Linked DNA regions of Homo sapiens. The protein of the gene in region 4 purifies or fractionates together with the protein of the main gene of each other region. This does not show direct contact. Each region holds a gene or a part of one and is shown on either strand. Other genes may lie near its edges. The genes, in order: RBM6, DHX36, PFKFB3, ASB12, CADPS2, MTHFD1L and GLO1.

What was found.
Region 1: the proteins of ASB12 (region 4) and RBM6 purify together in Homo sapiens (affinity purification with mass spectrometry, with the first as the bait; one large-scale study listed by BioGRID). This does not show direct contact.
Region 2: the proteins of ASB12 (region 4) and DHX36 purify together in Homo sapiens (affinity purification with mass spectrometry, with the first as the bait; one large-scale study listed by BioGRID). This does not show direct contact.
Region 3: the proteins of ASB12 (region 4) and PFKFB3 purify together in Homo sapiens (affinity purification with mass spectrometry, with the first as the bait; one large-scale study listed by BioGRID). This does not show direct contact.
Region 5: the proteins of ASB12 (region 4) and CADPS2 purify together in Homo sapiens (affinity purification with mass spectrometry, with the first as the bait; one large-scale study listed by BioGRID). This does not show direct contact.
Region 6: the proteins of ASB12 (region 4) and MTHFD1L purify together in Homo sapiens (affinity purification with mass spectrometry, with the first as the bait; one large-scale study listed by BioGRID). This does not show direct contact.
Region 7: the proteins of ASB12 (region 4) and GLO1 purify together in Homo sapiens (affinity purification with mass spectrometry, with the first as the bait; one large-scale study listed by BioGRID). This does not show direct contact.

Annotation. Positions count from the first base shown.
Region 1 is NC_000003.12:50,068,911-50,073,127, forward strand, and holds part of RBM6 (RNA-binding protein 6), read left to right. Parts: intron 1-1,544; coding exon 1,545-1,642; intron 1,643-4,217. UniProt on the Homo sapiens protein: Specifically binds poly(G) RNA homopolymers in vitro.
Region 2 is NC_000003.12:154,279,488-154,282,987, reverse strand, and holds part of DHX36 (ATP-dependent DNA/RNA helicase DHX36), read left to right. Parts: intron 1-2,125; coding exon 2,126-2,225; intron 2,226-2,318; coding exon 2,319-2,409; intron 2,410-3,500.
Region 3 is NC_000010.11:6,216,122-6,220,338, reverse strand, and holds part of PFKFB3 (6-phosphofructo-2-kinase/fructose-2,6-bisphosphatase 3), read right to left. Parts: intron 4,215-4,217; coding exon 4,148-4,214; intron 3,634-4,147; coding exon 3,559-3,633; intron 3,205-3,558; coding exon 3,148-3,204; intron 1,791-3,147; exon of another isoform or gene 1,768-1,790; intron 821-1,767; exon of another isoform or gene 771-820; coding exon 646-770; intron 1-645. UniProt on the Homo sapiens protein: Catalyzes both the synthesis and degradation of fructose 2,6-bisphosphate.
Region 4 is NC_000023.11:64,227,560-64,232,223, forward strand, and holds the start of ASB12 (ankyrin repeat and SOCS box protein 12), read right to left. Parts: upstream 3,049-4,664; 5' UTR 2,904-3,048; intron 1-2,903. UniProt on the Homo sapiens protein: Probable substrate-recognition component of a SCF-like ECS (Elongin-Cullin-SOCS-box protein) E3 ubiquitin-protein ligase complex which mediates the ubiquitination and subsequent proteasomal degradation of target proteins.
Region 5 is NC_000007.14:122,386,193-122,390,409, forward strand, and holds part of CADPS2 (calcium-dependent secretion activator 2), read right to left. Parts: intron 2,547-4,217; coding exon 2,391-2,546; intron 982-2,390; coding exon 834-981; intron 118-833; coding exon of another isoform or gene 103-117; intron 1-102. UniProt on the Homo sapiens protein: Calcium-binding protein involved in exocytosis of vesicles filled with neurotransmitters and neuropeptides. Probably acts upstream of fusion in the biogenesis or maintenance of mature secretory vesicles.
Region 6 is NC_000006.12:151,099,342-151,102,744, reverse strand, and holds the end of MTHFD1L (monofunctional C1-tetrahydrofolate synthase, mitochondrial isoform 2 precursor), read right to left. Parts: intron 3,278-3,403; exon of another isoform or gene 2,750-3,277; intron 1,220-2,749; 3' UTR 858-1,219; downstream 1-857. UniProt on the Homo sapiens protein: May provide the missing metabolic reaction required to link the mitochondria and the cytoplasm in the mammalian model of one-carbon folate metabolism complementing thus the enzymatic activities of MTHFD2.
Region 7 is NC_000006.12:38,678,815-38,683,031, forward strand, and holds part of GLO1 (lactoylglutathione lyase), read right to left. Parts: intron 4,062-4,217; coding exon 3,994-4,061; intron 3,288-3,993; coding exon 3,198-3,287; intron 1-3,197. UniProt on the Homo sapiens protein: Catalyzes the conversion of hemimercaptal, formed from methylglyoxal and glutathione, to S-lactoylglutathione. Involved in the regulation of TNF-induced transcriptional activity of NF-kappa-B. Required for normal osteoclastogenesis.

The DNA.
Region 1 (4,217 bases), on a different chromosome or scaffold from region 4:
TAATACAATCAAAATAGGTGCTTTTTATTATTTGTAAGTTTATACTTCAATGAAGTTGATATCTTTTTTAAAAGGTGGTGTTAGGGTCTCTAGGTAGATAACACTCCTCTTTCCTGCTTAGCTTTTAAATTAGTTGAGTTAATGAACAAGTGTTGAATAGCGCTGCTGAAATAGCATCTTTTACTATTAAAGGCTAAGCTGGAGGAAGTAGCTTAGTGTCAGAGTCAAATGGACTTGCTACCTCAACCACACAGTTAGGGTGAATTACCCAGTCATAGGCTTCACTGGCCTCTCTCATGATGGTTAAGAACCCACCTATGGGTCAGGCACGGTGGCTCACGCCTATAATCCCAGTACTTTGGGAGGCTGAGACGGGCGGATCACTTGAGCTCACAAGTTTGAAACCAGCCTGGGCGACATGGCGAAATCCTATCTCTACAAAAAATATAAAAATTAGGTGGACATGGGGTGTGTGCCTGTAGTCCCAGCTACTTGAGAGGCTGAGGGAGGATCGCATGAGCTGGGAGGCAGAGGTTGCAGTGAGCTGAGTTTGTGCCACTGCGCTCCAGCCTGGGTCATAGAGCCAGACCTTGTCTCAAAAAAAAAAAAAAAAAAGGAAGCCACCTGTGGAGAGCCAGGCACAGTGGCACATGCATGTAATCCCAGCAGTTTAGGAGGCTGAGGTGGGAGAATTGCTTGAGCCCAAGAGTTCCAGGCTGCAGTGAGCTATGATCACAGCCCTGTACTCCAGCCTGGGTCACAGAGTAAGTCCCTGTCTCAAAACCAAACAAAAGAATCCACCTATGGAGGACTGTTAGAGATAGTGAATTCACAAACTGAACTGGCCATAGGACAGTGGAAAGTAGATTGTAGTATTTTTCCTTTCCTTAGAGTTGTCTACTACAAAGAACCACCTCTCCATGTAAGAGCTGCTTTGGACTCCTTAAGTTTTATATTATATGCCCGAGGGCTTGTATAGTGGAGGGCTTGTGTACTTTCCCCTGCTTCTCAGAAGGGGAAAAGACAGCGGAACCAAGCGTGCCAACTTATTCTTTCCAAATGTTTAAGTTAGGAAGTCACTGCTTTCTCTAGAAGAACGTGTAAAGGAGTGAGAGATTCCAGGAGTTACCAAGTGAGCTACTTTCACTTTAAAAGAAATAACAAGGCCGGGTGCGGTGGCTCACACCTGTAATCCCAGCACTTTGGGAGGCCGAGGCTGGTGGATCATGAGGTCAGGAGTTCGAGACTAGCCTGACTAACATAGTGAAACCCCGTCTCTACTAAAAATAGAAAAATTAGCTGGGCATTGTGGCACTCACCTGTAGTCCCAGCTACTTGGGAGGCTGAGGCAGGAGAATCGCTTGAACCTGGGAGGCGGAGGTTGCAGTGAGCTGAGATCACGCCAGTGTACTCCAGCCTGGGCAACAGAGTGAGACTCTGTCTCAAGAAAAAAATAATAATAATAACAGCAATGGGGTAGAATTTCCCCACTCCCCAATTCCCTCAGGTGGCAATCTCAGGTCTGCTCTTCTGCTTACCAACAGGGAAAGTTTAAAGGAAGAGGAAATGATCGCAGGGAAAAGCTCCAGTCTTTTGACTCTCCAGAAAGGAAACGGATTAAGTACTCCAGGGAAACTGACAGGTAAGCCAGGAACTCTTCATTCAGCCTAGGCCTCAAGCCTAATGATAAAACCACCTCCTCCTTCAACTGTACTGCTGTTTTCTGTCTCAGGGAGATGATATTATGAGTAGATTCTGTCTGAACTGCTAAAACATGAGGTCTATGCCAGCCTTTTTACTATCTGTCTTTATACGGGGAGTGTACATGGAAGGTTGGCTGGCAGCTTCGCCTTCCCAAAGCCAGGGCTGGAGTAGCCATGATCGGGAACCCTTTCTGTCTTCATCAGTAATACTGCACCCTCTTTACGGGCCTGATAAGAATGTCACACTCTTGGGCTTTTTCTCTAGGGAACCTCCATTCTCACACATAGGTGCTAAATAAATGGTTGGCTGCTGATGGAGATGTATGATATCTAGCTTCCTATACTTGTTTTCAGTCAGCTAGTTCCCAAGTTGTAAGCCCAGAGTTATATAGAATTTGTTGATAACCCACTGTTTACAGGTGTCAAGTGCAAGAAATACTCAGGTGGACAAGACATAGATTATCCTTGACTGAACACAGAATAGACAAGACTTAGGTGATGGTGCGTCTCATAGGGCAGACACAGAAATCAGTGGGGAAGGGAAGGGCATTTCAGGGAATTTCATATACCAGGGATATAAGAGCTTATGATGTGTTTGAGGAGTTGCAAATAGTTTGATGGTCCTGAACACTGCAGGTATATTGTTGAGTGACAGTAGATAAGCCTGGTCCAAAAGATGCAGGCCAGTTCATGAAGTTTAAACACCTTGAACACCTTGCTAAGGCTTTATCTTAAAGGCAGTGGACGGTCATGGAATAATTTTAAGCAGGGTATTGACTTAGCTTTGCATTTTGGAGAGATTACTAATCATGTGGAAGATGAGTTTGTAGAGAGACTAATGCATTATGCAAATTCTATAGTAATTCAAGTGAAAGATCATGATTGCCTGAGTGAAGGTGATGAGTCTAGAAAGGAGAGTGGCCTATAATCCCAACACAGAGAGGCTGAGGAAGGAGGATCTCTTGAGCCTAGGAGTTCCAGGCCAGCCTAGGCAACATAGGGAGAAGGGAGACCCTGCCTCTATTTAAAAAAAGAAAAGAAAAGGAGTGTGGCTTAGAGAGAGGTGTCAGATCTGCCAGTCTTTGTGATCACCTGGGGAAAGGGAGAAGTCACTGATGGTGTTCAGGTCTCTGGTCTCTGGATAGCTAGGAGGAGAAGGGACAGTAAAGTCCTTGAAAAGGAAAAATGGGGGCCAGGCGTGGTGGCTTACGCCTGTAATCCCAGCACTTTGGGAGGCCGAGGCGGGTGGATCACAAGGTCAGGAGTTCGAGACCAGCCTGGCCAAGATGGTGAAACCCCTTCTCTACTAAAAATATAACAATTAGCTGGGCGCTGTGGCAGGCGCCTGTAATCCCAGCTACTCAGGAGGCTGGGGCAGAAGAATCGCTCAAACCTGGGAGGCAGAGGTTGCAGTGAGCTGAGATCATGCCACTGCACTCTAGCCTGGGTGACAGAGCAAGACTCTGTCTCAAAAAAAAAAAAAAAAAAAAAAGAAAAGGAAAGGAAAAATGGGGCCAGGTGTGGTGGCTCACACCTGTAATCCCAGCACTTTGGGAGGCTGAGGCAGGTGGATCACTTAAGGTCAGGAGTTCGAGACCAGCCTGGCCAACATGGTGAAACCCTGTCTCTACCAAAAATATAAAAAAATTAGCCAGGCGTGGTGGTGGGTACCTGTAATCCCAGCTACTCGGGAGACTGGGGCAGGAGAATCGCTTGAACATGGGAGGTGGAGGTTGCAGTGAGCCAAGATTGCACCACTGTACTCTAGCCTGGGTAATAGAGCGAGACTCCAAATCAAAAAAAAAAAAGAAAAGAAAAGAAAAGGAAAAGTGGGTAACAAGTGGATGCATGAGCAGAAGGAAAGGGAGATAATTGACAGAGCAAGGCCCTTGAGGAGGCTGGACAGGTTTTGGGGCTCTGGCATTCCAGCTTATTTGATCCAACCCACAATAAGAGAAGTATTTTTGTATCATGGCCCAATAATAAAGTGTGTGTGTGCACAACTGAAAAAGTTTTCATCTAAAATACTTTCTTACCAGGTACAGTGAACCCTGATATTTTTATTCAAGTCTAGTCTCTCTTCATTTTTATGAGTTGTTACAGTGGGACCATTTAGTGTGACATTCCATTGGGTCATTCTCTGCAATTTGAAATACAGTGGATTAGGACTAGGTGAAGGAGTCAGCCATCAGGAGGAAGGACACCTTGGCCTTGAGTCTTCTGGGACAAGGCTTAGGTGGGGTGCGGAAAGAGACCCTTCTTTATTCTCAGCACCCTTTATACCACATTCTCCTGGCTCTTCTCCTTTCCAGTCACCTTTTCTGCTCCTCTTCCTTTTCTGGATAAATCCAGGTGTTCTCTAGGACTCTTCTCTCAGTGCTTCTTTGGTCTTGCTGCTCTACCCTCTTGACCTGGGCTTTCTAAGGTACCCATGGCCTCAACCACCACCACAGTCTAACAAGTCCAAATCTCCTGTATTATTATTTCAGAGTAGCAGCATCATAGCATCACTGT
Region 2 (3,500 bases), on a different chromosome or scaffold from region 4:
AGAGCAAGGCACAGTAGGGTTCGATTTCTGTTCCTGTCCCCACATTCTAGTTGCTATTTTGATGATTCAAACTGAGAATTTTTGCTAACACTACTAAAATCTGTTGAAAAGTATCAAATAGGATAGATATCTGTAAGTTTTCTGGTTTAGTATAGTGAAACACCACAGGCAAGCATTTGTAAAACAGAAGAAAACAGTAAAGAGGGCATATGCCATCACATTTCAGACTACACTGAACTGGGTATTCGAAGCCAGTGAGAATAGAAATATCCTCATCTTCTCCCAGTACACATACACTCCAGCTATGTGACATGAGGCCTGATACTGGACATTTAACAGATCTACAAATTAGTAAACAAAAAAATCTAACATACCAAATCAGAAGTGCCCAGTCATTAGCAAAATGGAAAAAAAGGATCACCACAATTCGGAAGGAAAGGAAAAGAAAAAAAAAAGAGTGGAATGCCATGTTTCAGTAGAAAACACCTTTAAACTGTTTCATAATATGGAATAGCTAATAAGAATATGAATTCAGCAAAACATAGGTTAGAAAATAAACAGTAGAGTGAATGAAAAGACACCTGAGCTAAGAAAACAAATTGAAGATCAAAAGAAATCACAAGGAACAGAATGGACACCCCTTAAAAACAAGTTATTGCCATAGGAAAAAAGCTTGAAGTAATCACAGTTTATGGAGGTACCTGAAAAAGACAAAAATTAAAGCAATAAGTAAAATCTTAAAGACAGGAAGACAGGACTCATCCATTATGAGAACAGTAGACATTAGTGTCTGCATACAAATCCTGTGTAATTGAACGTTTATTTTGAGATGTATGTAAGAACACGTTTTGAAATGGAAATAATGAAATGAACAGAGAAGTGAACAGAAGCATGAAAACATAACTGAATCCAAGTGTTTGAGAATGTCATGTCCAGTCAGGATATGAATTCAGGTGTAAAGAAAAACAACAGGCATTCAAGAAATACTGTACCCCTGAGCTCTTCTTGAAAAGCCCATTGACGGTGAAATGCTGTTAGTTAAAAGGGGAATCACAGTGGAGATTTCAGGAATGGAGAGTGCATGCTTAATCAGCTGGTGTATATACATTAGAAGTATTTAAATATAGAGCTAATAACAAAATGGTGTTAGGAATTACACATGCAAAATAGAATGTAAAGATTATTATCCTGAACAGTATAAAATAATGGCAGTAAAAACCAGGAGGTGTCTAAGAAAGTCAGGTGTCAGAAAAATTAGGTGGGGAAAGTCACACCTTTCATAAAAGGGATATATACTTAAATATAACCAACTTTATGTTTCATAATCTCTAAAAGGAATTCCTTAGGAAATATTTCTGTTATGAAAATACAAGATTCATCTGGTCATTCACTTTCCTTTCTATTTAACTTTTCTTTAAATTGTACTAAAGTTAATTGTTTTATAAAGAATTTCTATACTATGATTCTGTTATTAGGATGCATTTCTTCTATCAGTATATATACTTAATGGGTGTCTGCAATCTTATTTATTTAGAAGACTGAGTATTGAGGCAAGGGAAGTACTTTTCTATGTTACTTGAATGCTTTGTAATAAGCCATGTATCATTATTTAAAAAAAAAACAAAACCTTAAGCTTACCTGCCATTTTTAACCATATTTAATTCTCAGTAATAGAAATATGGATGTGGATTATTTTCTTTATGCTTTTCTATATTTTTTAAAAAATGGGGGTGGAAAGTAATTTTAAAAATTCTATTAGTCTTTCACAAAATAGAGTAATCCTTAAACATCAGTGGCTATTCCTTACAACATGCAAACTTTTTCTGTGAAAAGTCGGGTAATATTTTAGGCTTACAGGCCATAAGATCTCAGTTACAAGCATTGACCTCTGCCATTGTAGTGCAAAAACAACCAAATGTAGATGAATGGGTGTGGCTGTGTTCCAATAAAATGTTATTGACAAAAACAGCTTTTGTAGTTTGCCAACCCTTGCTTTAAAACATGTTTGCTAAAGTGTTTTCATAAAGCAGGGATAGCTTACAACTCAATTTATCTATTAGTGTATGGTTTATAGCCTCAATGTGTGAAAGGTATTCTAGTTCTATTTGTTACCATTGCTCCCTAGATGCTGCATAACATGAAAGGACAGTTTGCTGAGCATCTTCTTGGAGCTGGATTTGTAAGCAGTAGAAATCCTAAAGATCCAGAATCTAATATAAATTCAGGTACAGCAGGAAACACAGTGTAAATAAGTATCTTTTGTCTATTGTATCAGTATTTTACTTTTCTTTTCCCCTCTACCTTCTCACCCCCCATAGATAATGAGAAGATAATTAAAGCTGTCATCTGTGCTGGTTTATATCCCAAAGTTGCTAAAATTCGACTAAATTTGGGTAAAAAAAGAAAAATGTAAGCATTGAAGATTATTATTAATTACTCGTAATTCTCTTCTTAAACTTTTGAAATCTGCTCATGTAACAAGGCTTATATTATAAATTTGTTCTTATTCATATGTGGGTTATATTCTTGTTCTTTTAATCATTTCAGAGAAGGTGAACTGTTTAGCCATTGGTATCACTTTCCCTCACAACACATCCTGGAATCACCTCTTTGATAACCCATTATTCACAAAGAATGCTACCACATGATACCAGTGTAAATATTAGAAGAGCCAGCCTGCTAGTAAATACCAGTGGCTGGATAAAAATTGCTTAGAGTAGATTTTATTTCAGAAACTTTTTTCCTCTTGCCTTATAAATGGATAACTTAGCTCTTTGAATAACATTGTGATTTCACTATTTTGAGAAATAAAGTGTAATAATATATTTACAGGTAGCCTCAGTAGTAATTGGAGACAACAGTGAAGCATGAGCTAGAATGAGCTCATTCTAGCTAAAGGATACAGAGAAACTAAGAGTCACAAATGGCCAGTAGTGTGGTTGCTGCTATTTTGGAAGACACTCTGTATTAGAATTATGATTGAATCATTAAAATAGTCAGTGACCCAGTGCATGAGTTTTTAATTTGATAGATGTGTCTTAAGGAAGTAATTTCAAATGTTTTCTAACAGCTATATTGTAAATAATATAGATTTCTAGTAGCCATGGGAAAATTGTGGTTTTATAATACTGTAATGCATCTCCATAGGTGGGCATTAAAACAGTCATTGTGTAGTAACATGTAAAGTATTTAAACTGATGTTAAATGAAAGTTGGATATTCTAGAATTATAAACATGAAAAAATAAAGACTTTAAAGATAGGCCAAAGTGCAGACATTGTTCTTGGGCAGTGGTTCTCAACTGGCATGATTTTGCCCCCAAAGGGGACATTGGAAAGTGTCTGGAGATACTTGTGGTTGTCATAACAGTGTGTCAGTAGTACTAAAGTCAAGAAACCCTATTCCAAGGTATAAAGTAATGGGTAGCTGATGAATTTTAATCATTGTGGTTGGATTATTCACATTTTAAGTGACCTAAGTACTTTTTCAAAATAATACTTG
Region 3 (4,217 bases), on a different chromosome or scaffold from region 4:
TTGAGTCTAGAAGTTCAAGACCAGCCTGGGCAACATAGCAAGACCTCATCTCTACTAAAGAAAAAAAAAATTAGCTGGGCGTGGACACCCACACCTGTAGTCCCAGTTACTCATGAGGCTGAGGCGGTAGGATTACTTGAGCCCAGAAGTTTGAACCTGCAGTGAGCTATGATCATGCCACTGCACTCTAGCCTGGGAGACAAAGGGAGACCCTGTCTCTAAGCAAGCAGGCAAGCAAGTAAGTAAGTAAATAAATAAATAAATAAATGGAAAGAAAGGAAAGAAAAAAGAAAGGAACTATCGGAGGGACAGTAGCAAAATCAGGCTCAACTCTATGTTGACTTCCTGTACTTCTACACAGTGTTCAAAATATTCCCACTGAATATGATTTGTCATCAAGGATTGTTTTTAAAAGATATTTTCAAAGAGAGTTGATAAAGGTATCCAGCGGCTGTATGTGGATCACCTGAGGCCAGGAGCTCAAGACCAGCCCGGGCAACATAGCGAGACCTCATCTCTACAAAAAAAACTGTCTTAAAAAAATTTTTTTAAAGGTATCCAGGAGCAAATCCTTTGTGGGAACATCAAGAATTCAGTAAGAACCCTCATGTGGGTCTTGCAGAGACGGCCAGCCACGGGAATCACCTGTCGCATTTGTCGGGGTCGAGGGGCTGGTAGCTGGCTTCATAGCAACTGATCCTCTTCATGAAGTCGTCCATGGCTTCTGCCGAGTTGCAGTCTTTGTAATCCGGGCTGGAGATTTTAACTTCCTGCAACACCACAAAGGGGTGGCTGATAAATCACGCTGGAAGGCTTTCTGCTGAGATTAAGCAGGATTTGGGGCTTTCAAAAGGGGAGCGCACAGAAGGCTCAGTATAAAGATTATCCGGCCCAGCGTGTAAGAGAAAGGGAGAAAGATGCTGGGGGCTGAGTCACAGCCTGATGTTACATGGGGAGGATTCCCTGGGGAGATGGAGAACTGAAGCCGGAAGGACAGAGACAGGAAACCCACAGGGATTCCATAATGAACACCTCTGAATGCTCCAGCAAGTCAGGATCTGTCCCGTGCCCGAGTCACCGCCAGACAGCCTGGCGCTGAACTCAACCGAGCTCCACGTGAGGATCCGCAATGCTCCCCGTGCCGGGAGGAGGCTGCTGGTTCTAAGGTATGCTCAGGAGTTCCCAGAGATGCCTCTGGCCTTGTGTGGTTTCTCCTCCACCCCCCACTGCCTGAGGCAGCCCCAGTGTGACCAGTCCGTGGTTAACTGCTTCTCCAACTAGGGCTGTGCCGGCTCCTTTGCAGGGCTCGCTCTCCTAGGCAACAACACAGGTCTACCAACACCCACAGTGGCACAGGCCCCAGAAACCAGGTGGATTTTAGGGAAACTCAGCATTTCTGAATGCCTGGGCTCTTTTTCTCATCAACCACTGCCGTCACTGAGAGGCAGCCACTCTTCAAAGATCGAGTCAGTCGGGAGCTGTGCCTGTGTCCTGGCACAGTTTCAGCCGGGGAAGATGAGAAAGTCCTGCGGATAGAGTGTGGCGGTTGCCCAACAATGGGAATATAATTTGCTGCTGTACTGCACACTTAAAAAATAGCTAAAATGGCCGGATGCAGTGGCTCACGCCTGTAATCCCAGCACTTTGGGAGGCCAAGGCAAGCAGATCACTTGAGGTCAGGAGTTTGAGACCAGCCTGGCCAACACAGTGAAACCCCCGTCTCCTCTAAAAATACAAAAAAAATTAGCTGGGCGTGGTGGCGCACACCTGTAATCCCAGCTATTCGGGAGGCTGAGGCAGGAGAATCGCTTGAACCCGGGAGGCAGAGGTTGCAGTGAGCCAAGACCGTGTCACTGCATTCCAGCCTGGGCAACAGAAGGAGAGTCCGTTTCAATAAATAAATAAATAAATAAATAAATAAATAAATAATAAAAATGATTAAGATGGTAAATTTTACATTATGTATATTTTACCACAATTTAAAAAAAAAATCTAAGTTCACAAATGCCTGGCTCTACCAAGCTGCTTTGAGATTTCATCAGAAAGAGATTTCTGAACATGGTGGGTTGGGGCAAATGATTATCTGCTAGTGGACAACCAGACAAATGCTAAACTCCTTGCTAAGCACATTGGTGACCACTCACTGGGAAAAATGACTTCACAGCTGCACCCTGCTGTCTACCAAGGGGAACAACGAGTGCCCAGCCAAAGAAAGGTGGCAAACCCTCATACTCTGAGCCTCCTGCTCCCACTGGACAAATCTAAACTGACTTTTCACAATTCAAATAGCCCTTCCTGAAACAGGAATTCATTTCCTAAAGATATCTAGAAATACTTCCACCACCTTGGGGAAGATACCGGGGCTAACACATGCTTAGCATCCCCTCTAAAGGTGCAAAGATGCCAGCACCACAGCGTCCCAGTGTTAAGTTTTCAGAACTGCTTTTCTTTATAGAATTGTCATATTCTGATATGTTTAAGCTGAAGAGGAAATTATCTCCAACACAGGGTGGCAGCTTGTAGTAAGTCTCCATAGTAACCATTCCTGTTTATATATATTGCTATCAAGTGGTAACACTGGAGAAATTCATCAAGTTATGATGCCAAGTGCCCTCAATTTATCTGGGCAAGCTCCCCTGCACAGCACAGACAGGAGGGTTTGTGGCAGGTTCACGAGATGCATCAGCAGGAGGAGAGTCTTACCTCCCAAACTCAGGAGGCTGCTGAGCCCTATGGACTTTTGCCAATGCCCAAGCATTCTTACCTCCTGGAGCTGTAGCAAGTGATCCACTTGCTGCCACCTGTCCCATTAGGGGCAGTGAGCGGCCCTCTGCCCCAGCAGCTCCATCACCACTAGCTGTCAGGCTCCTGCCACCAACAGAAACTAATCCTATCTCCCTGAATTATTTCCTACGTCCCATCCAAGCCTGCCCACTGCCCTGGATGGAGCTAGTCCCTCACAGGACAGGCCTCTGGGTTAAAAACCGCTCTGTAGGTCTGACCTCCCAATCAACAGCCAGCTGGGGGCTGCTCATCCTAAGGGCTCAGCTGCGCTTCCGAGCCGGACCCGGTCCCCCACTTCCTCAGACTGCAAATGCCCTTGTGGTCTACGCTGCCGCAGAAGCACGGGGCTCCCGGCTGTCTTACCATGATATTGGAGGCCACAACTGTAGGGTCGTCGCACACCGACTCGATGAAAAACGCCTGGTGGAAGTGAGGTGGGGATGTTAGAAAACAAACACCACGAAGGATCAACCTTGCCATCACTGCGATGTCATCACCCGGACAAGGCGGAAGCACGCCACCCACCAACTCCCAAACACAGGAAAGCCCACCTCCTCACTGCAGCCTCTGGAACGCCCCATGGCCCCCAAGAGCCCTACCACACAAAGGCCCAAATTTAAGGCCACAAAACGTGGGCAGCAGGAGGGGAGGGACCGAGCAGGACTAAGGAACATGGGCAGCAGGAGGGGAAGGACCAAGCAGGACTCAGGCCGCTTCCTGAAGCCTTTTCCTCTCTCCCGAGCCCTCTAGCACAACACAAGACGCTCAGCTCACCTTAAAGTCATTTTCTTTGGCAAAATGAAGGATCATGTGTCTCCTCTCTCTAGTAGTATTGGTGGCATCGAAAACCTGATATGGAGAGCAAAGGGCCAGGAAGAAAACTCTAAGTTTGAGTTTAACAACGTTTACCAGAACAGCAAAGATGCCAGACCCATCATCTCCAGGAATAAGCCCCAAAAGTGCTTCAGGGGAGCTTGTGCCTGCCCACAGTCCTCTCCAGGGAGTGCTTAGGAGGCAGGCCTCCCGCAACTACCAACAGCACTCAGGGGTGGTAGCGTGGGGGAAATACCCCAAAAGCAAACAAGCAAAACAGTAATGTGCAATGGGACAGTGTACAAGGAAGGGCCAGTGGTCCTGTGGGTAACTCGAGTCCTGCCCGCCCTGGAGGTGTGGGACTGGCCACAGAGGGGGTGGGTCCCTGAGTCCACCCCACATCCTCCTTCCTGAGCCATTGGGCTGCCCTGGCCACCTGCTTTCCTCCACCCTCAGGGCCAGAGGCACAGGTCTCGGTACACCCCAGGCCGGTGAGGACACCCTCATGGGTGGGACTGGACACCGAGCCGGCTACATTGCCTGGACTTACCGCAATTTGTCCCCCTTCTTTCGCCAGGTAGCTTTTGACATCTCTCAAGGCAGCTAAGGCACATTGCCTG
Region 4 (4,664 bases):
ATTTTTCTCCCTTCCCATTCTCCCCTGAAATATTTGTGTTCTCTTCTCCAACCTCTTCTCTCCAGTCGCTCTCACCTTTATTCTGATTATTTTAAGCGTCTCTATCCGAGCCCCCAGCTCTCTCTTTAGCTCCAGGCATGTATCCACTGAGTTTCTTCAAGCACTTCAAAGACAGCAGTATCACATCACCACCACTACCACCATGACTAAACTTGATCCATATATCATTTCCTCACCATCTACCTGGTCAACCAAACCAAAAACCAAGACTCCTGTCAATGCTCTTGCCTCTTTATCCCACTCTCATAAAATCCCATCAAGTCCTGTGGATTTTACCTACTAAAGACTTCTCCAGACCATCTGTGCTCTTCAGGGACCATTCTCATTGACTATGCTTCATCTAGGCCCCCACTGCCTTTTGCCTCAGCAGTTATAGTGGTCTCATAGGTAGTTTCTCTTTTCAATATTTTCTCCACATTGTTGCTAAAGTGGTAATTTAAAAATACATATCTGATCTCTACCAATCCTCTGTTTTAAATACCTTAATGGCTCCCCTTTCTTTCCAGCTACAGCCCAAATACTTTAGCCCAGCTCAGAGGTCCTTCATGAATAAATCTTGGCCAATCTCTCCAGCCTCACTTCCTACTACTCCTTGACTTATATCCTGAGGTCCAGTGACAAGAGACAAAAAGTGATGGCTCTCCATATACACCATGTTTCTTTCTGCCACATGCAACTCCTTCTGCCAAGTTAATTCCTGCAGAGTCTGTGTTATAGCACTATAGCAGTCATCACACTGTATTGTAACTTCTATATGGGTCTTTGTTTGCCCTAGTGCAGATAAAGAGGCCTTATGTGGTAGTGGCAAAACATGGGAGTTCTGCTTCTACCCCAGCTCTAGCATTTAGTAGCTGTGTGACCTGGGGCAGGTCACTTAATCTCTCTGTGCCCATTTCTTCATCTGTAAAGACAAAATAACAATAGTATCTGCCTTGGAGGGTTCTTAGGATTAAATGAGTTAGTACATAGTAAGTGCTTAGAATAGTGCCTGAAAGTAGTTCTCAGTAACTATTTTTACTATGATGATGATTGTTACTTATGTCTCCATTTTCTAAGGCTATTGCTCCCTACTTAATGTTCTAGAACCTCAGAGCTGCAAGGGACCTTGTAGATCATTTAATTTAATTTTTTCAATTTACAGATGGGGAAACCAAGGTTCAGAGCAGAGCAGGGACTTTGGTAAGGTCACATGGTTGTTATTGTTAGTTGTCTCATTAACAAGAACTCAGAACACACTTATAATCCTGTGCTTTTCAAAGCAATTTCATGTAACAAAATAGGTAATATTATCCCCATTTTTTGGATGGAGGAAACTGAGTCCAGAGAGGGTAAGGGGTTTTCCATATACCTTACATCAAGGCAAAAGCAGAGTCAGAAATAGAATCCAGGTTTCTCTACTCCTCCTCCTGTTCTTTCTATTACAAGATGAAACACAAACACATACCCCCCTCCCTTGACTCCAGCAGTCACATTGCAGCTCCCAGGATCTTCAGCTTTTGAGTGTCATGCTGAATTCCAGGGTCTTCGGTAATGGAAGGTTCCTTTACAAATAATTTATTCTGATAACTGGTAGGAATTCCCTCCTTAATATTTTATTTTGGCGACTGGGATCTGGGCAGATAATTGGCAGGGAGTGGCAGAGGGAAGTGCTGAAGTTCTTGCTAAGGTTCATACCAAGAGCCCACAGCAGAGCTCATATAATGAGCCTCCAGAGGGAGACCAAGCCATGCTCTCCAGCTGGCTGTGGCACTGGAGTGAATCGTGCCTCCATTAGATAAGGACAAGGAAATCCAGCTAGCCTGTTGTCTTACCTCACTTTGCTGTAGTTTATTAATCAAAGAGTTACTATGTGCCTGTTATGTGCACGTAGCTCCTTCCTGATCCTAAAGATGTAGGAGTTTTAAACCTTTTTTTTTGTGATATTGGTTCCTGTGACAAACTAGCAAAGTCTGTAAACACCTTTCAGAATGGTTTTTGCTACATAAAACACATAAAATTAAAGGAAACCAATTATATTAAAATGTGACTGTCAAAATATTTTTAAATGCATGATATAGTAAGAGATGTTCTTTAGTAACACATTAAATAAAAAGGTCTAGTAATAATTTCTAAGTGGTAATAAATGACATTTCAAGATCTCTGCCACAACTGTAATATGATATGAAATATCTGTGGTTTCTTCTGGTAACCAAATTACATGAACTGGTTATGCTACTGCCATTTGATACCTGCATTCATCCTTGAAGGAAATAGTACATTTTAGTTAGAGGTTAGGGGGAAAAAAGGTAATTGTCTATTCATCCAAGTTTCTGGACCCCTTGAATTCTATCTAAGGCCCTCTTGGTGTCTGTCAATCCAGGTTAAGTACTCCCACAGGAAAGTGGTTGGTTTCCGTGCATCCTAGAGCATTCCTTCAGGCATTAGCAGAACGTTTTTAAGCCTCATCTTCCTTCTCTCACCCTTACGAGTTCTGCCCTTATGCCCTTAAACCCACTCTAAGGCACCCACACACACAGACTAGCCAACACCACACAGGGACACAAAGACAAATCTCCACACTTCCTGTAGTGTATAATCACAATTGCTCTCAAGAAGCAGGTCTGTTTAGACCCGAGGTCCTAGGCAGACATATCCTCTTGGGACACACAAGGCAGGGAGCTGGCATTATATCCCTCCTCCCTCCTCCTGGTGGGTTGCCCTAACGACCTTCCAAGCGCCTCCCCCAACTCCCACCACGTCCCAGACCCAGCGGAAACAGCCTACAACGGGAAGTGGGTGATCACAGGTCTGTGGGCCCGCAGTGGTCACTCTTCTCAAACCGGTCCTAGGCTCCAGGTACTCACCGGGCTTCAGCCTGAGGCCATGCTGCCCAGGGTCGCTGCCCCCCGCCCCTCTGTGAAACATTGGGGCCCTGGTGTCCCCTCCTTAGGGAGCCCCCACGGCCCCAACCTGGAGCAGCTGGGGCTCTCGTTTCCCACTGTTAACAATGCCGTTGAAAGACTAGGAGTCAGTCCCTAGTCTTGGTCCAAGGGGCTAATTTTAGGCTACCCTCCACCCCCTCTTCCCAGGCCGTGTTATCTTACCAGTGCCATTCTGGGAGCGATTTCAGTAAGAGGAGGGGCTCTCCCATGGGGAAGTCCTGGAAGGACTGACTGACAGATAGACAGGTGCCTGGTGAGGCTAGGGTTCCTGCTCCCAGCCTATCCTCCTATATCCCTCCCTGCCACTCAAATGGGAGACAGGGTGAGGCCCCTGAGCTGCGGTTGTTCCCACACCTCCACCAGGGGGCACTGAGAAGGTCCAGCCTCAGCCTAGCACACTTTTTTTTTCTCTTTTTTTTTTTTCTAATTATACTTTAAGTTTTAGGGTACATGTGCACAACGTGCAGGTTAGTTACATATGTATACATGTGCCATGTTGGTATGCTGCACCCAGTAACTCGTCATTTAACATTAGGTATATCTCCAAATGCTATCCCTCCCACCTCCCCCCACCCCACAACAGGCCCCGGTGTGTGATGTTCCCCTTCCTGTGTCCATGTGTTCTCATTGTTCAATTCCCACCTATGAGTGAGAACATGCAGTGTTTGGTTTTTTGTCCTTGCGATAGTTTGCTGAGAATGATGGTTTCCAGCTTCATCCATGTCCCTACAAAGGACATGAACTCATCATTTTTTATGGCTGCGTAGTATTCCATGGTGTATATGTGCCACATTTTCTTAATCCAGTCTATCATTGTTGGACATTTGGCTTGGTTCCAAGTCTTTGCTATTGTGAACAGTGCTGCAGTAAACATACGTGTGCATGTGTCTTTACAGCTGCATGATTTATAATCCTTTGGGTATATACCCAGTAATGGGATTGCTGGGTCAAATGGTATTTCTAGTTCTATATCCCTGAGGAATCTCTTCTTTTTTCTCTTCTGAACTGAGCCTCTCTGCATATCCTCCAACTCGTTGCCCCTCCCCTTCCTTCACTGCTCAGAGTGAGGAGGAAGGTAGGAAGGAGAAGCCTCCATAACAGAATGTGTTCTCACTCAGCTTTTCTAAAGCTTAAGAAGGCCTTGGTCATTTATAAAGACCTTCCCAGTCCACTGACCCACCAGGCTCAGCCTGAAGAAAATGCCCACAACCTCCCACTATCCTCACCCTAAAGCATCACCATTACTTTAATGTGTCCAGCACTGGAAACTTTGTCAAAAACTCAGCTCTCACTTTTTCTGCCCCAAAACAGCCCTCTAGGGATCTGAACCCAGATATTATATCCTCCATGTCACCTTGTTTCAGGGAAAACAGCCCCAGCTCCTTCAACTATTTCTTTCAATCTGTTATCTATTTAGTTCCCTCCCCAGTCTTGTCTACCTCACTCATGAAGTGGTCAAGCAATCTGCTTGCACATTGATAGTGCCAGGGAGCTCACAGAAGACCAGATAACTCCTCTGGAAAATGTGGGAATGTCCTAGTGTGATCAGTGACTCTGAAGATCAGAAACATCAAAAAGCATACCAGTTTCAGCTTAGCTTGAGCCAGGGGACTTTGTCTGAGGCCTCATGCAAGCCCAATTAGCAGTCAACAAATAAGCTATTATGATGCTAAAGATGACAGA
Region 5 (4,217 bases), on a different chromosome or scaffold from region 4:
ATTTATATAATTTTAATTTGAAAAGATGAAAATAAAAAATATACATTTACAAAAATAATAACTCAAATGAAATGTGCTTTTAGAAAAAAAAATGAGACTTACCCATTGACTACCAAACTGGATCATGCCATGGGTGGAAAAAAAAAGATGATGAAAGAGAACAGAAGGGAAGAATAAAGAAATGAAGAAAAAGTAATTACAATGGGAAAAAAAGGCAACAAAATCAACTTAAAACAGATAATTGAAGAAAAATAAATCAATTTTCACCCAATCACCACTCTCAACAAAAAATCATGGGGTAAAATAAAATTGTACTTCTGAATATAAAACCAAACAAAATATAAATAAAATAGAAAGAATAGGATATTTATTGATAAGAACTAGGCCTAGATTTTTAAGTCTATTTCAACCTAAATTTTTAAAAATGGAAGCTACTGTGTAAATAAACTATTTCACACTTTTTCGTGTGTCTTACTTTTATAGATGCAAACTCTGGATACTCTAGATTTGTATAAACAAAACAGGTAGCTTTCCAGCTTTCTCATTTGCTTGTAAAAAGCAAGGTTTATGTAAATGACACAACACTTCAGCTGTTAAAAGCTATATCTAAAATTCATGGCCACTAATGCAATTTTAGACCATATTTATATCAAAAAGGAGAAACTGACATGAGCAAAGGATAAAGGGCATTCTGTTATTATAGTAAAGATCAAACGTTTGGTGCTAGAGAACTTGGTCTTTTCAATCCAATCAAGAGAATGCCTTGTGGAAAGGGCATTTCCCATGCCAAGGCACCCTGTGCTGCCTTTCCCCATGTGGCACATTCTACATACCTCTTGTCCTCCATCCAGGGCACAGAGTTTGGTGCTTTGCTTTTTGGCATCGACTAATACATTAAACATAGTGCAAACGGAAGCTGGAATGCGCAAGTCAGTTGTTTTGCTTGCCTTTTGTAGCTTGAGTTCAAATGCAGTTCTTGTTCTAGTTTTTAAAACATGAATTCAGAGTAAGAAATTCTGCTATACAGCTCACCTGTTTTGTAAAAAGTGAAATCAACACTACAAGATGCTAATTTAAAACATGCAAATAAGGAGTAAGCAGTGTGGCAGTGCTTGGGAGCTAAGGGGTGGGATGCTTTTCTTTTCAAGTGTCTCAATGAAAGATCAGATTGTCATATTTTTATATTAAGCCTAGCTTCATGCAGTCACTCAGGCAGTATTGCCACCCAAATGAAGCTTTTTGTTATATCTAGAGTACCACATTTAATGGAAAAAAAACTCATAATTTCACTTAATTGTCTGAATTAATTGTCTGAATTTCCAAGTAGAAAAATCACACACTTGTATGCATTTAAGCAGAATATATCCTCTATGTGAGGTCTTACCAAATTAGAAAAAATAAGCACAAACCTAGAAAACCCTAAAACATGGTAATCAATGTACAACAGACAATGTGTAATTCTTTTATGTCACTTACATTCTCTTTCAAAAACCTAAAATTGCAGGCAGGTTTTTGAAAGGAACTGCATCATGAGCAATTTGGAATTGGTTTTGCTGAAGTATCCTATGAAAATCCACAGAATCGAGACATCAAAATCAAAGATGATTTTTAAAAAACATTAAACTACCTAATCCAGGGCCTTGCCTTAAGGGGCCACTGAACATTATTCTAAAGACAGATTTTTTCTTGGTTTCAAGATTTCAGAAATATCCAATTGGTCTAACCAGTGTTTGAACACTTTTCTAATATGTGGCTCCATATTGTCCTTGTATATATAATGAACAAGGACAATGGGAAAAAAATGCTTGACCAATTAGGATGCAAAGCTGATTTTTTAAAACTACGATAAAATGAAAGCACATTTGGAAGAATATGAAGCCTCATAACTTATTTCCAGTTAAGTGATAAAGAATGTAAGCAGATAGTTGGAACTCATCTGATGTGGACAGAAAATAGTTAGTAATCCCAGAACAACTGATGGTGCTGATCCTATTTTGAGTTTACTATGCCATTTCACAGCACACAGACACAGTACATAATGCATACAGAACATAACAGACCTTTTTCATACGTCTCAGGAGATATTACCTTGGGAATTTAAAGCATAGTATTCCCAGAGAGATAACAATAAGCCCTAAAGAAACCATTAATATGGTATAGATGTTACTGATTAAGGCAATAGTTGGGAGACCTGAAAAAAAGTATCCAGCCAATTTCATCAATTACATGGGTCCCCAGAATTTAATCAAGATAACCTAATACTCATTAAATGTTGGAATAGTGGTGCATAATGAAACCTTTGCTGTGACAATAATATATTAGGTACTTGATAAAAAGTGATATTTTTGGGTGCTGGCACATTAAGCAGCAATTTGAAAATACATGTCTACCTTTTGACACAGGCCTCTAGCATATCACTGGCCATTAGTTTAAGTCTTTGCTCTAAGTGGTGGGCAAATTCCTGTTCTGGCCAGTGCAGATCAAAGACAAACATTTGCAGTGCATCAAGCTTCCAAAAAAGGTCTTCTGATGTTGCTGAGCCATTGCTAGAAGAAAAAGGAAAAATGAACATCATGAACTCCCCGTTAATTAGGTATACCATTAATACATTGTTTTTTCTTTTCTGCATCAATTGCCATCAGTGAAAAAAATACCATATAAAGTCTCTAATGATCCAATATTTTCTTTGTTCAGCCTTCTAATTGTTCCTCTACAATTCTTAATAAGGCAGGGCAAGGAGAACAAAATAGAAATAAATATGGTGGTAGGGTTTCATACAAAGAGGTAAAATGGATATGTATACTTTACTAAGGAAGTTATATTGTGTACATAAGAACAAACATTGTAACTGTTCTTTACCAATCTCTAGGATAAAGATTCTTGCAAATCCCCAAAATTATGTTTTATGCAAGAAAATCCTTATGTTAGTAACCAGTACCTTTGCCGTTATTCATGCATATGTGCCTCTGTCACCATGGTGGTTTCTGTCTATCTACACGTGTGTAGAACATAGGGTCCTTGAATTTCTCAATTACAGGTAAAGATGAGACAGGAACTGGAAATAAAACGGGCTAGGTAGGGAAGCAATCTTTTATTTTCATTTTTTGCTTTTTCTGGCTTATTAAAACCCAACTTAGTGCAAGGTATTGTCTGACAGAGAAATGACATTCAGGGTGCTCTGAAGATGGAGAAAAACAATGCGTTTCAGGTCCTTATATCTAACTGTGGAGCCAAGATTTGCTAAGCATTCACTATTATGGTAAAATTACTCTACAGGAGTGCTATCACCCCATGTATGAAGATAACTTATAGAAGAGTTACAGTAACTTATAGAAGTTACCTTCTAGAAGGTAACTTATAGAAGAGTACATATAATATTTTGGCAAATGGTTATTACTTTCCATTATGCAAGTACATAGGCTAATACAGAAACAAGTGTTTTGAAAGTAAAATATTCCTACATTAAAACATATTGAAATTTAACCATAAAAAGCATAAAAGCAAAAGCAAAAAAAAGCTGCTGTATGATTCATTTGTTCTCAGCTTTCCCACAATTGCTTCACATATACTAACTTAAAATTTATATTTCTAGTTTACAAAAGAAAATTAAAGAAATAAACTCATTTATTACAACAGCACAGGGGAAAATACCTATGTAACAAACCTGCACATTCTGCACATGTATCCCAGAACTTAAAGTAAAATTAAAAAAAAATAAATTGTTTAAAGCACCACATTGTTTCGCTAAATATATCTTTATGAGCTAGCTTAGAAAAAAAGGCACCTCTTGCTCTTGACTAATGAAAAGCTTATTCCTGCCCTCCACCCTGGCCTCAGCGTCAAAGCTCTATCACAAACCTACACTGCTTTTCTCTTCTCATTCTGCCAGTAATTCCTCCTGATCTCCTTGTCTAGCCAAAATGCCCTCAGACTTAAGTTCTCTAGGGACCAATCATAGCAAAGCACTGAACACTCCCGTAGCACTTTACTCACTTAAATCTCTTCACCGTAATATTCAGTGCCTCAAATGCACCATTAAATAAGAGAACTAGACAACACCATTCTGATACTACAGTGAAAGTGTTGAAAAAAACACTACCTTTATTTCTCCTTTTGCCATATATATCATACAATTAAGAGAAAACAAACAAACAAAATCTCCCTTCACATCCACAGTGTACAGCTTGGTAGATTAGAGGAACTGAGTTTTAAGAATA
Region 6 (3,403 bases), on a different chromosome or scaffold from region 4:
TCCAAATAAACAGTAAAACATCAGTTAACTGTATATTTGGAGAGGTGTACTCCCAAATAAAGGGCAGGGATGGGGAAGGACACTTCAGAATTGCCAAGTGAAATTATTCTTGGGACAGACAGCTTTTGAGTGGGAGGCTTTTGAGTTACTAAACAGTGTTTTGGGACAAATTGTGCATAAAGGTGCATTATGGGCTGAGCAATGGCTGAGCAGGGTCACTGGAGGGTGTAGGACAAGAGGATGCAGAAAAGATCCTGCAGGATGTGCCTGGGGGGCATCTAAGATATTTATGGTGACTATTTTCCTTACGCTGCCTAGAGGACAATCACTGCTTGTTTCTTCCTGAATCCTTGGTTTTGTTTTAACTTTTACGTAATTTTATATTATTGTAGGAAAAACTGGAAAACAAAGAAGGGTCAGGAACTCCCAGAGAGGGGAATAGGCCACAGAACATTCTCTACTACTAATTAAGGGTTGGGCAAAAGGAAAAACATTTTCCAAACACCTGACCTTTAAGAGCGACTTTTCCTAGCCCTGTGGGCCTTAGAAAGTTTAATGGCCATCGAGACTCATTCCTTGGTGGAAACTAGCATAAACCCATTTGTTTTAGGTAAGAGCAACTTCACTGGCGCTGGAAAATAGTTTTGGATACACAGTGCACTTCATTCCAAGAGATCTTACTAGAGATCCCCGACAGTCAGAAGATTTCCCGCTTGATCAGATATTTCTCGACGTGTGTTATTGCTTTGCTTGTCACAGTTTTCTAGGAAACTGGTGTCAGGTAACACTCCTAGCTGCCTCCCATGAGGAGTTACCTCTAGAGCGCAGAGTTTTATCTGGCACTGAAAACTTGCTGGTTGGTTTTCTAGATCCATGTTTATTTTCAGTTCAAAGACAAAGTAGAAAACTTGAGAGTGGAAAATGTTACCTTTTAGTTCACACTCCTAATCCCTTAGTCCCCATAAAATAAACATTCTAAAGTGTAAGCAGTAGAAATAATGGAAACTCCACAGAAACAGAAATAAATTAGTTTCTTTCAGTCTTGGTGGAGGTCCTTTTGCCGAACACCATACTCCACTGTGAACAGAATTCATCTTGAACGAAGAAGAAATCTTTGGCCTATTTCACCATGTCTCCAGCATTGCATAACAGACATTTTTCAAATTCAGTTTCTTCTCCAACTGCAGCAAAAAGGCAAAGAGTAGTCTGTTTCAGGAGTCTGAAAAATAGAAAAAAAAACCATGTTTGAGTAGTTTAAGAATAGCTTTCTCCTCTGGTGTTAAACCGTTAACATGTTATAGCTCTAGAGTTTGAGGCCAAAAGAAAATTCAAGAGCAGAGTGATGGTTCGCTAGATAAGGCTGATCTGTGTTTGGAATATTTTACTTAGCAGACGTGGAGAAGCAGAGTCTGCACCACTCTATAAGAGCAGGCACAGCTACGCCATGCAGCATTCTAAACTTCCCAAGAGATTTACTTGGGGATACTGGCAGAATTCCCAGAACTTCCAAGTTTGGGATCTACAGTTTGCAGGATCCTGTGGAATGAGAATATTTAGGATTTAAAAAAATTTTTTTTTAATTTTTTGAGACAGAGTCTCACTTTGTCGCCCAGGCTGGAGTGTAGTGGCGAGATCTCGGCTCACTGCAACCTCCGTCTCCCGGGTTCAAGCAATCCTCCCGCCACAGCCTCCGGAGTAGCTGGGATTACAAGTGTGCACCACCATGCCCGGCTAATTTTTGTATTTTTAGTAAAGACGAGGTTTCACCACGTTGGCCAGGCTGGTCTTGAACTCCTGGGCTCAAGTGATCCGCCTGCCTTGTCCTCCCAAAGTGCTGGGATTACAGGTATGAACCACCACGCCCAGCCTTGTTTAGGATTTTAGATAAGGAATACTGTCACCTTGGATTTTTAGGTTTTATAGAGTAGGCACAGAAAGCAATGTTTGAAAAATGCATTTAGGACAACATGGAAGTTCATGGTCCTGGAACTTAGTATTAAAGCTTTGCTGCTTTCTCCCAAAGGCTATTAAGATTCATTGCCATTCTTGAATCCTGTAATCTCTTAGAAAGAGAAATAAACTACATTAAAAAAAAAAAAAAGAAACAAAACAACACTTAAGTCCCAGAAAATAATGTGTTCACCTCTCTAAAATGTAAATGCAATATGTTGCCTTTAATCTGAACTTACACATGGAAGGACTTATCTTTTAGGCCTAGAAAGTGCAAACTCTGCTGAAATCCTGCGAGTTGGCCTCCCACAGATCACTGAGAGGTCTGGAGCCAGATAAGGTGCTTGGTTAGTTTCTAGACAGAAGATATTGATGAAGAGAGGGAACGAGGAGCTTCAAATACTCCCCTAACATCTGGTTCAAGTCAGGGGAATAAACAGAAAACAGGAGTATTATAAGCACAACAAAGATGAACAAAAATAAAATATTTCAGGCCAGGCGCGGTGGCTCACGGGTGGATCACGAGGTCAGGAGATCAAGACCATCCTGTCTAACACGGTGAAACCCCGTGTCTATTAAAAAAATACAAAAAAATTAGCTGGGCGTGGTGGCAGGTGCCTGTAGTCCCAGCTACTCTGGAGGTTGAGGCAGGAGAATGGCGTGAACCCGGGAGGCGGAGCTTGCAGTGAGCCGAGATCGTGCCACTGCACTTCAGCCTGGGTGACAGAGCGAGACTGCGTCTCAAAAAAAAAAAAAAAAAGAAAAGAAAGAAAATATTTCTTTCTTTTCTTTTTTTTTAAAGGAAGATGCCAGATGGCTGTTTTTACATTTATTTAAACAGAAAATGTGCACACGAGCTGTCTACTCATTTTCTTCGCTGCACAGCCTGGCACTGGGGTTGGTGACTGTGATGGCCAGTTGGGCAGCTCTTTCCACGATGGCTTTGCGGTTCTTGGAGGAAACATTGTGAGCGATCTCGGCACAAGTACGATTGTTGCACATCAGCAGCACTTCCAGCTCCTTGACGTTGTGGACCAGGAACTTCCGGAAGCCACTGGGCAGCATGTGCTTTGTTTTTTTGTTGCTCCCATAACCAGTGTTGGGCATCAAGATCTGGACCCTGAATCTTCTACGAACCCTGTTGTCAATGCCTCTGGGTTTCCACCAGTTACGCTTAATTTTGACATAATGGTCTGACTGGTGCCGGATGAACTTCTTGGTTCTCTTTTTGACGATCTTGGGCTTCACAAGGGGTCTGAGGGCGGCCAAGATGCCGAGGAGGAGATGGCTGCCACCTCCATAGGCAGCGCCGAGGAAGAGAGAAGGGCAAAAAAAAAAAAAGAAAATATTTCAGAGACACGGCCAGCCTCACTGTAGTGGCTCTGGTATCCCTTGACCTGAGGGTCAATGACTCTTGGGACAGGAGGGGTGCTAGGGTAGAGGGTGGGCTCAG
Region 7 (4,217 bases), on a different chromosome or scaffold from region 4:
GATCCAACCTGAAGAGGTGTTTTGTGGAAGGTGAAATAAATTTAAGTCTCATTTCTAGGTGCCTAGGAATCTCTGGCCTAGGCTTATCCAGCCCATTGTCCTGAGATCATGTGGGTTGTTAAGGACAGGGATCTGGCCATTCTCCTATTCACACTGCTTGATGTGTTAGAATAGCGAACAGTTGCAGGGGAAAAAAGCTCAGAGGCAAAAAATAATAATTTGAGAAACATAACCATAAAACACCCCCAAAGCAATGGACTGTAGATTCAAACAGAAGAAATATTAGAATAATGGACCAAGAGCTATTTTTGTTTTTTTTCTGGAGACAGGGTCTTGCTCTGTCGTTTATACTGAAATGAAGTACAGTGGATCATAGCTCACTGCAGCCTCCAACTCCTGGGCCCAAGCAATCCTCCCACCTCAGCCTCCCGAGTAGCTAGGCATACAGACTACAGGCATGTGCCACCATGCCCAGATAATTTAAAAAAAAACCTTTTTGTAGAAACAAGGTCTTCCTATGTCACCCAGGCTGGAATGCAATGGCACAATCATAGCTCACTGCAGCCTTGAACTGCTGGCCTCAAGTGATCCTCCCGAACCTCCCAATCCTCTGCCTCGGCCTCCCAAAGTGCTGCAATTACAGGCATGAGCCACCATGCCCAGACCCAAGGACTATTTAGACATGTAAAAGTAATGACCGGCCGGGTGTGGTGGTTCACATCTGTAATCCCAATACTTTGGGAGGCTGAGGCAGAAGGATCACTTGAGGCCAGGAGTTTGAGACCAGCCTGAGATACATAGTAAGACCCTGTCTCTACAAAAAATAAAAAATTAGCCATACATGGTGGCATTTGCCTGTAGTCCCAGCTACTCAGGAGGCTGAGGTGGATTATTGTTTGATCCCAGGAGTTTGAGGTTGCAGTGAGCTATGATCACACCACTGCACTCTAGCCTGGGCAACAGAGCAAGACTCTGTCTCAAAAAAAAAAAAAAGTAATAAACAATATGAAATATTACCAATATGAAAAAAAGAACAAGAACATATTAAGCAAACTAAGCGAAAATTAGAGATCAAAATTATAACAGGTGTTTAAGAACAAAATAGATGAATTAAATATCAGAACAGATACATTTGGGAGAAAATTAGCTAATTGGTATTCCAGTTTGAGGAAATCTCCCAGAATGCAGGCAGTGACAAAGAAATAATATAAAAAGCTTCTAGAATAAAACAGAAGAATATACAAAGGAACATGAATTGACAGATTTTTCAACAGCAACATCATATGCAAAAAGAAAATAGAAGAGTATTTTCAAGACTGAAGGAAATTAAACCTAGGCTTTTCCATAAAACTGTCCTTCAGACATAAAGGCATCATCCTCAGTTACACAGAATCTCAAAAGTTTTGCCTTAAAAACCCTTTAAAGGGCTGGGTGCGGTGGCTCATAGCTGTAATCCCAGCACTTTGGGAGGCTGAGGCAGGCGGATCACCTGAGGTTGGGATTTTGAGACCAGCCTGACCAACATGGAGAAACCCCGTCTCTACTAAAAATACAAAATTAGCCAGGCACGGTGGTGCATGCCTGTAATCCCAGCTACTCGGGAGGCTGAGGCAAGAGAATCACTTGAACCCAGGAGGCAGAGGTTGCGGTGAGCCAAGACCGTGCCATTGCACTCCAACCTGGGCAACAAGAGCGAAACTCCGTCTCAAAAAACAAAAACAAAACCCCTTTAAAGACCATTTTGGTTGAGGTATTTAAATAAAAGAACAGAAAAATCCAAAAGATGCTAAAAAGGCTGGGCATAGTGGCTCACGCCTGTAATCCCAGTGCTTTGGGAGGCCAAGGTGAAAGAATCGCTTGAGCTCAGGAGTTTGAGACAAACCTGGGCAACATAGCAGGAACTCATCTCTACAAAAAAATAAAACAATTAGCTGGGTGTGGTGGCATGTGCCTGTGGTCCTAGCTACTTAGGAGGAGGCTGAGGCAGAGGATTGTTTGAGCCCAGGAGTTTCAAGGCTATAGTGAGCTATGACAGTGCCATTGCAGCACCCCAGCCTGGATGAGAGTGAGATCCTGTCTCAAAGGAGACACTACAAGAGATATATGAAGAAAAAGTGATCAAACACCGTGATATATTTATTATTATCTTTAAAAAATAAAATCAATACTATCCCACTCTAGGTAATAGTGACACAATGAGGACAGAGTGAAGCAAATTCCTTTCTTATTGGGGAGAAGATTTGGATATTAAATATATATATATTTTTGTGACGGAGTCTCACTCTGTCGCCCAGGCTGGAGTGCAGTGGTGCGATCTTGGCTCACTGCAACCTCCACCTCCCAGGTTCAAGCAATTCTCCTGCCTCAGCCTCCTGAGTAGGCGGACTATAGGCGCCCACCACCATGCCTGGCTAATTTTTTCTATTTTTGGTAGAGACAGGGTTTCACCATGTTAGCCCAGATGGTCTGGATCTCCTGACCTCGTGATCCGCCCGCCTTGGCCTCCCAAAGTGTTGGGATGACAGGTGTGAGCCACCACGCCCAGCACTGGATATTAAGTATTTTAATTTTTTTAAAAAAGGATTGAAATTAAACAGTGAAATATTTCAAATGTTTAGATTGAGACTCTGAAATATTTAATATTTCAATTTTAATTTGAAATAGTTCAGAAAGAGATCTAAGTAAAATAATAACAATACATGTAAACCCAGCAAAATCCATACGTAGGCTATTTCAAAAAACCTACCTAAAACTTAAGGACATACAAAGGTTATAAAAGATGAAAAAGAAATACCATGTGATTATAAACTAAAGAGAGCTGGTGTCATTATATGAGCATCAGATAAAATGGACTTTAAGGAACTTATTTTTGGGCGGAAAGATATACACTGAAATAGTGAAAGCTGGTGGCCAATGAAAGAAAGTGGTGGGGTCGGGCAGTGGGAGAGGAAGCGTAGGGTTTTGATGGCTGTCCAGGTCCTGTGTCTAGTGCCTTGGAAAGCCACCCTAGTTGCTGTCTTTCAGTTCCCTAAAATACCCAGATATTCTTCCAATCATTTCTCTTTTTTAAAACTCTGGTTGAAGTGGAGACTTCTGTTACTTGTAGCCAAAAGGGTTTTACTACAACAGTGGCCTCTGTAGGTGGTTAGTAAATATCAACTAAAGACAGGCCTGAACACAGTAAGTAGTAGACTCACCATCATCAGGTTTCTTCACAAATTTGACTCCCAGTTCTTCAAACCTTTTACAAGCACTGTATACATCAGGAACAGCAATTCCAATATGACCTTACGTGATACCCCCCGAAAAAAGCAGAGAGAAGGAAGAAATAATTATAACAGGGTGTCCAAGTACCACAAGTAGATTCCAAAACTTGTTTATTTCAAAACATAAGGCACTTGGGAACAGACTTAGGTAGGTTCAAAATCTATAATACATTAAAGAACAAATATAGATCTAATGGGCTGGGTATAAGTAGTTAATTAGTTGCCTTGAATTATAAATTATTTAAAATTAATCAATATCAGCTCATATACAGTCTAATCAGTTAAGAATAATCGACACCAAAAAACAGTAATCATTTACTAATACTTAATAGGTTTGTGGTTGGCATTGACTATAGCAGCCAGCTGAAGCCTGCAATACTGTCATCTTGATTGAGAGACTGGAGATCAAGGCAGAAGTGTATGTGCTAGCAGAAACTGGGATTAGTATTAACTACAGCTTTTTTAAAAAAAAAAGTCTACTGGAAATTAATTCTGAGACTTAAAAGTAAATCATGGTGAGATGGTAAGTGTAATTTTAGATCGAGACTCTGAAATTAAACAACTCCTAAATAAGATTATTTGTGGAAAATAAAAATAATCATATCTCTAATAAATTGATCATACTTAATTAGGACATTAATGTTTTAGGTTTATTAAAATCATAATTATATACATAATACAAAATCACACAAATCTACATATATCACATAAAAACAGGCAAACTTACCGAATCCTCGAGGGTCTGAATTGCCATTGTGGTAACTCTGGGTCTCATCATCTTCAGTGCCCCAATTGCTACAAAAGGAAGGAAAACATAGCTACAATGTCCTAGGGAATAGATATTCTGAAAAGCAAGTAACATCTTTGAAATCTTACCACGTTTATATGCTACTTTACATAATTGGCCTAACCCCTGCTACAAAAATATTAAGTTTTCAACTATAGAAAGGA